Linked DNA regions of Homo sapiens. The protein of the gene in region 1 interacts with the protein of each later gene in a pairwise test. Each region holds a gene or a part of one and is shown in the gene's direction. Other genes may lie near its edges.

Region 1 (3,442 bases):
CACCCCTCCTTCCCGTGTGGGTCCCTTCCCCAGAGCAGCCAAGGTGAGCTTTTGTAAACATAACTGTGGTCACATCGCTCACATGCTTAAAACCTTCTCATTTCTCTCCAGTTAAAGTTCAAAGTCTTGTATAGGACCTGCAAGGTAGACCTAGACCCAGGCCAACTTTCCAGCCTCACATCACACCCCTCTCCCCATCTTTTGCTAAGCTCCAGCCACACTGGATTTCTTTTTGTTCCTTCACAGCACCAGGTTACATCACACCCACTCCAGGTGTGTGCATGGGCTGTCGCCTCTCCTACAACATCTTCAGGCTCTCCCCAGCACCCCCTTCACTTGCTCACCTCAGTGACTCCAACCCATCCTGCTGCAGGGCCCAGTCTAAATGTCACTTCCTCAGCGAGGCCTTCCTTAACCTGCCAGGCTGGGTTCAGCTCTCCTGTCACGTGGTCTTAGCTCCCTGTGCTTTTTCATTGTGACCCTTTTTAGAGCTGTGATATGCTACTGGTCTGATATTAGTTTAGTACCCCTCTCCCCTACTTGAGTAACCAGTTGCTTCCACATCGCTAAACCCAGCAGCCAATTCCGAGCACTCATCCTACTCCATCTGTGCAGCACTGGCACTGTCACATGGCAGCAGAGGCCCTGCCTTCTCAGGCTCTCCCCCAGCTCCCATTACTGATTCCCTGTCCTTTCCCCAACCTCTATTCACTGGAGCGCCCCATCTCGGTCCTGCCACCACTTCTCTTCTTTTTTTTTTTTTTGGTTGTTGTTTTGTTTTTGTTTTTTGAGATGAAGTCTCAACTCCGTTGCCCAGACTGGAGTGCAGTGGTGTGATCTCAGCTCACTGCAGCCTCTGCCTCCCAGGTTCAAGTGATTCTCCTGCCTCAGCCTCCCAAGTAGCTGGGACTACAAGCACACGCGACCACGCCCGGCTAATTTTTGTGTTTTTAGTAGAGACAGGGTTTCGCTATGTTGGCCAGGCTGGTCTCGACCTCCTCACCTCAAGTGACCCGCCCACCTCAGCCTCCCAAAGTGCTGGGATTATAGGCGTGAGCCACTGCCCCCAGTCACTTCTATTCTCTTTCTACTTAGTCCCATGACTTAAATACCATCTCTGCACTAGAGAGTCCAGATTTCTACCTGTAACCTTAATGTCTCCCCTGGCCCCAGACTCACCTACCCAGCTACCTGCTGCACATGTCTAATAGGCACCTCAAACTCAACACACCCAAGATTGAACCCTTGATTTCGCCCTCCCAACCCCAAAACCCAAACCTCACATGCAGCTCCTGATTACGTAGATGGTACTGCCAGCTGCCTTTCCTTCCTGCACACCCCACTTCTAGTCTGTCAGAAAATTTCATTGGTTCTCCCTAAGGACCAGCACCTCTCATTGCCTGCACCTCTGCCCCTGATCCAAGCCAGTCTCCTCCCTCGCACCATGAGTGCTGCAATGGCCTCTAAATTAGGACTCCCCACTACCATCTTGCCTTCTGCAGTCTGCCCTCTGCACAAGAGCCAGATGATCTTTTCAAGGCAGGATCCCATGTCCGCCACAGCTTCCACTTTCAAGTGGCTCTTCTCTACATTTTGAATAAAATCCAGACTCCCATTCTCATGCCCTTCACAAGTTGGCCCCTGCCCACCACCTGAGCCCCCACCACACTTCCCATTGATCACACACCAGCTTCAGTGGCCTCTTTGCTCTTCCTCCTGCACAGGAAGCTTGCCCCCACCTTAGAGCTTCGTTCTTGCACCCTATCTGAAATGCTTTTCTCCTGGATACCTTGAACCCTCAATTCCTTCAGGTCTCTGTTCAAATGCCACCTCCTCTGGGAGGCCCTCCCTCCCTTACCACTCTGTATTAATTAAATCTCCAACCTCATTCTGTTTCCTCTTCCTTACTTTACTTGTCTTCAGAGCTCTTCTCACCACTTGACATTGCATCATTGTCTCTCTGTTGATTGGTTTGTGGTCTGGCTGTCCTGCTGCCTGAGGCAGGAGCATTGTTTGTTGTGCTCACTGCTCTATTCCCAGCACCTGGAGCAGTGCCTGGCACATGGTAGGTTCTTAGTAAATGTTTATCATGTGAATGAACTATAAATGTTGTTCACCACAATTTACCCATCACCCAGTCAGAGCCTAACACACAGTAAATGCCCAAGAAAAATTTTTAAGCAGAGGACAAACGAGGGGCCAGCTTCACTGCAGCATTGACCTTTAGTGTGGCCTGTACACATTTTGCATGGAAAAGGTGTTCCTGAGATCTGTTGTAGTAAGTGGAAAAAAATATGTAACTTGACAAAGGGGCTGGTCCTACTTTAGGTATGGGCTGTGAACCCCTGAACTTTAAATTTCTCATATTCTCTTTGCAAATTGGTAAATGAAAACCAAAGCCAAAGGACAATACTCGTGAACGCACTATAGAAAAGGCCCTTGCTTTTAGAACATCCCAGTTAGTCATTTGGCACAGAGCACGAGGGCTGCCGTCCAACACAATCCAGAGGCTCTGGTAGAAAGGGCTGCCCCAGCCAGTCGTGATCTTCAGACCAGGAGGGCGCCATAGGACCTGCAGCACAAAGCTCAGCTTGGCTTCAGAGTGGATTGGATTTTGCTGTTTCCCTCCCAGCAAGCCGTTCCTCTTGTTCTGCTTTATTTAGAGTAATATTACAATTTGTTCCAATTCTCTGGGCTCACACTATATGAGGGTAAATGCAGGCAGCCTAGGGCCAGGATGAAGCCAGCCAAGCACACACACACTGCTGACCATCTCTAGAGCAATCATAAGGTCCCAGTTCATATTCCACCATGTTCCACATCCTCAGGACATGTACTCACCACCTGCCCTTTAGCTGCTAACTTTGGAGACTGCCAAATGGTTTGCCTAAGCAAGTTCCTCAGTTGCCCTGCCCCCACTGCTGTGTTGATGCAAGCAGCAAAACACAGATCCAGGGCTGTACAGACAAAATTGTGATGCCCAACAAGTGCTTGGAAACTTCCATTCTTTTTTCTTTTTCCCACCTCCTCCTCCTCCTTCTCCCTGTTTTCTCTTCTTCCTTCTTTTCTCCCTCCTTCTCTCCTCCCTTCTTTTTTCTTCTCCTTTGCTTTGGTTGTTTCCTGAATAACTCTCTCTTTAATGCAGCAAAACATACCCACATGGTTTTGCCTTTGGTGAAGACTTGCTTTGTGAAAGCTATAAAATGACAAGCCAAGCTCAGCCTCCACAGTTAAACCCAAAAGCATGGTGGAGGAAAGGGATTTTTGTCTCCTCTTTGAAGTGCTCCACTATTTTCCTTAGATGGCTGGCCCCATATCCACCCTTAGATAGGTGTTGAACTAATTCCAGACACTGAAGGAAATTCTTGTCTTCTGAAAAGACATTTTATCAACAATGGCATTTCTTCCTTACCTTATGATTCATACAGCAGTAAGTACTCCT
Region 2 (3,500 bases), on another chromosome or scaffold:
GCTAATTATTTTTTTAATATTCTTGTATTATCTATCACAGTTCTCTATGATCATAGCAGTTAACACTTACTGAGGACTTACTTTATTGCAGGCACTGCTAAATGCTTTGCCTTTGTTCTTTTACTTAATTCTTACAACAACATCCTTAAGTAGGTACGTTCACGTCCCATTTTATAGATGAAGAAATGAAGGCCTAAAAAGGCTAAGTAACTTCCTTTGAGAAGCTAAGTAACTGCCCATATTCACACAGCTGGAAATCCAGGATGTTAGATGGAAAATTCTGTTGGCAGTGCTGGTGAAAATGCAAATTGGTACAGCCCCTCTGGAGGGGAATTGGGCAGTATCACATTCACCTTTACCCCTTCTCAGCAATGCCATTTCTAGGAATCTTCCCCGAAGATAGTATTGGCAAAATATACAGAGAGGTACTTGTACATGGCTGTTCATTGCAAGACTGTAATAGTTAAAAGACTAGAAATAACTCAGATGTCTGCCATTGAATAAGCCATGATACATCCACACACTGAAGTACTATGTGGTTTTTTGTTGTTGTTGTTTTGTTTTTTTTTAAGAGACACGGTCTCACTCTGTTGCCCAGGCTGGAGTACAGTGGTGCGATCCTAGCTCACTGCAGCCTTGAAGTCTTGGGCTCAAGTGATCCTCCTGCCCAGGCTTCTGAATAACTGGCACTACAGGTGCACACCACCATGCCTGGCTAATTATTTTACTTTTTGTAGAGATGAGGTCTTTCTTTGTTGCCCAGGCTGATCTCAAACTTCTGGCTGCAAGAGATTCTACTGCCTCAGCCTTCCAAAGTGCTGGGATTTACAGGCATGAGCCGCTGTGCCTGGCCTATGTTGTTGTTTTTAAAAAGGAATGAAGAGTGTGGGTGTTGGCCATAATAAAAGAAAAAAGCCAGTAAAGAAACAGAGTATGTGCCGGGAGCAGTGGCTCACGCCTATAATCCCAGCACTTTGGGAGGCCAAGGTGGGTGGATCACCAGGTCAGTAGTTCAAGACCAGCCTGGCCAAGATGGTGAAACCCCATCTCTACTAAAAATACAAAAATTAGCCAGGCACGGTGGCAGGCACCTGTAATCCCAGCTACTTGGGAGGCTGAGGCAGGAGAATCACTTGAACCCAAGGGGCAGAGGTTGCAATGAGTTGAGATTATGCCACTGTACTCCAGCCTGGGCGACAGAGTCAGACTCCGACTCAAAAAAAAAAAAAGAAACAGAGTTTTTATGTAAGAATGGAATGGGGGAATGGGGATACAAATATAGACATATCAGCTTATGTACTTAAAGATAGGTAGATAAACTGTAAAAGTAATCATATGTAGGAGATAGTAAGGGACAGGGTTAGAAGTTAACAGGTTTCTGAACATATCTTGTTTTGTAGATTTGACTTTAGAATCCAGAGAATGTTTTACATAATTACAAAACTAAATCAAAAACTTTTTAAACCTTAAAAGTCAAAAGCAAAATGAAACAAATGGACCTAACGTGTGTCAAATTGGTAGCATAACTACACAGGAATTATTTTCAAAATGTCGTTAAAACAGTAATTTGAGGCTAGGCCTGTAATCCCAGCACTTTGAGAGGCTGAAGCAGGCAGATCGCTTGAGCCCAGGAGTTCAAGACCAGCCTGGGCAATACGGTGAAACCCCATCTCTACAAAAAAAATACAAAAATTCACCAGGCATGGTGGTACGCACCTGTGGTCCCAGCTACGGGGTGGGGAGGGGGGGTGTTGAGGTGGGAGGATCACCTGAGCCCAGGAGGTCAAGGCTGCAGCAAGCTGTGATTGTGCCACTATACTCCAGCCTGGGTGACAGAGCAAGACCTTGTCTCAAAAATAAAAAGTTTATAAAAAAGAAAGCTAGGGTTTAATCCACGTATATGTGACTCCAGAATGTTAACTCTTAACCATTGTACCATTGTTTCCCATAATGTGGTTATATCACCATATGAGGGGATTTCTGTGGCACCTAGAAAGGACTTTTTATTGTAATAGCTAAGTATTTATTTTAATATTACCTTCTATTTGTGGTAAGAAAACTACTGGAAGTTTTCCATTTAAAAGTATGCTGATATTTAAAAGTATGCTGATGATAAGCATACTTTTAACATAAATGGAATTAAAAATTGGCTTAAAGAAAAATAGATCAGCCAGGTGTGGTTCTGGAGGCTGGGAAGTCCAAGAGCAAGGTGCTGGCATCTGGTGAGGACTGCCCTCTGCTTCCAAGATGAAGCCTTGGCCGGGTGAGGTGGCTTACGCCTGTAATCCCAGCACTTTGGGAGGCCAAGGTGGGTGGTTCACCTGAGGTTAGGCGTTCAAGACCGGCCTGGCCAACATGGTGAAACCCCATCTCTACTAAAAATAACAAAAAATTAGCCGAGCATGGTGGCAGACGCCTGTAATCCCAGCTACTCGGGAGGCTGAGGCAGGAGAATCACTTGGACCCGGGAGGCGGAGGTTGCAATGAGCTGAGATTGTGCCACTACACTCCAGCCTGGGCAACAGGGTGAGACTCCGTCTCCAAAAAAAAAAGAGAAAAGAAGAATAGTTCAGTATTGGTATAGTAGTGGTAGAATTGAGATGTGACAAAAATTGTATGGCATGACAAAGTTGGAACCTTTCTAGGCTGTACTGACTCCATTGGTGTGAATGATGAAATAAGCATTTAATAAGCTTTGCTTATACCCCTAATATCCACATTTTAATTTTATGCCAGACTCTTTTGAAAAGAGAAATATTTTGCATAAAACCTTGTGTGTGTGTGTGTGTGTGTGTTGTGTATGTGTGTGTATATCTGTATGTTTTCAAAGGCCTTAACCATTATAAGAAATTACAGGCTGGGCGCGGTGGCTCACACCTGTAATCCCAGCACTTTGGGAGGCTGAGGCAGGTGGATCACCAGGTTAAGAGATTGAGACAATCCTGGCCAACATGGTGAAACTCCATCTCTACAAAAAATATAAAAATTAGCTGGGCATGGTGGCGTGCACCTGTAGTCCCAGCTACTTGGGAGGCTGAGGCAGGAGAATCGCTTGAACCCGGAGGCAGAGGTTGCAGTGAGCCAAAATCACGCCACTGCACTCCAACCTGGTGACAGAGTGAGACTCCGTCTCAAAAAACAAAACAAAACAAAACAAAACAACAAAAAACTTACAGAGGACATTTTTTATTGTTGTTACAGAATGTCATACCCAGGCTATCCCCCAACAGGCTACCCACCTTTCCCTGGATATCCTGTAAGTATTGCCACTTAATACCTCACATCCTTAAAACAGGTGTTGTTTGGGACTGGCCCATGTCAGATCTTACAGATATGCTTGAGCAGGGGTCATAAATTCAGATGCTCAGAGGTACTACGTAGAAGTGAGGAAAGGCAATTGTGTGGGGGACTAGAGAGGTCTTGCTTTGTCTATTGAAAGCTGGCAGGTGCTTAGCACCAGCCCTGTGTAGCCATGGAGGGAGGCACACTCAGCGTTGCTA

The links. The genes of interacting proteins can lie anywhere in the genome.
Region 2: the proteins of TMEM108 (region 1) and ANXA7 interact in a two-hybrid assay, tested with the Homo sapiens proteins (one large-scale study listed by BioGRID and IntAct).

The regions. Positions count from the first base shown.
Region 1 is NC_000003.12:133,391,391-133,394,832, forward strand, and holds part of TMEM108 (transmembrane protein 108 isoform 1 precursor), read left to right. Parts: intron 1-3,442. UniProt on the Homo sapiens protein: Transmembrane protein required for proper cognitive functions. Involved in the development of dentate gyrus (DG) neuron circuitry, is necessary for AMPA receptors surface expression and proper excitatory postsynaptic currents of DG granule neurons.
Region 2 is NC_000010.11:73,400,559-73,404,058, reverse strand, and holds part of ANXA7 (annexin A7), read left to right. Parts: intron 1-3,201; 5' UTR 3,202-3,202; coding exon 3,203-3,256; intron 3,257-3,500. UniProt on the Homo sapiens protein: Calcium/phospholipid-binding protein which promotes membrane fusion and is involved in exocytosis.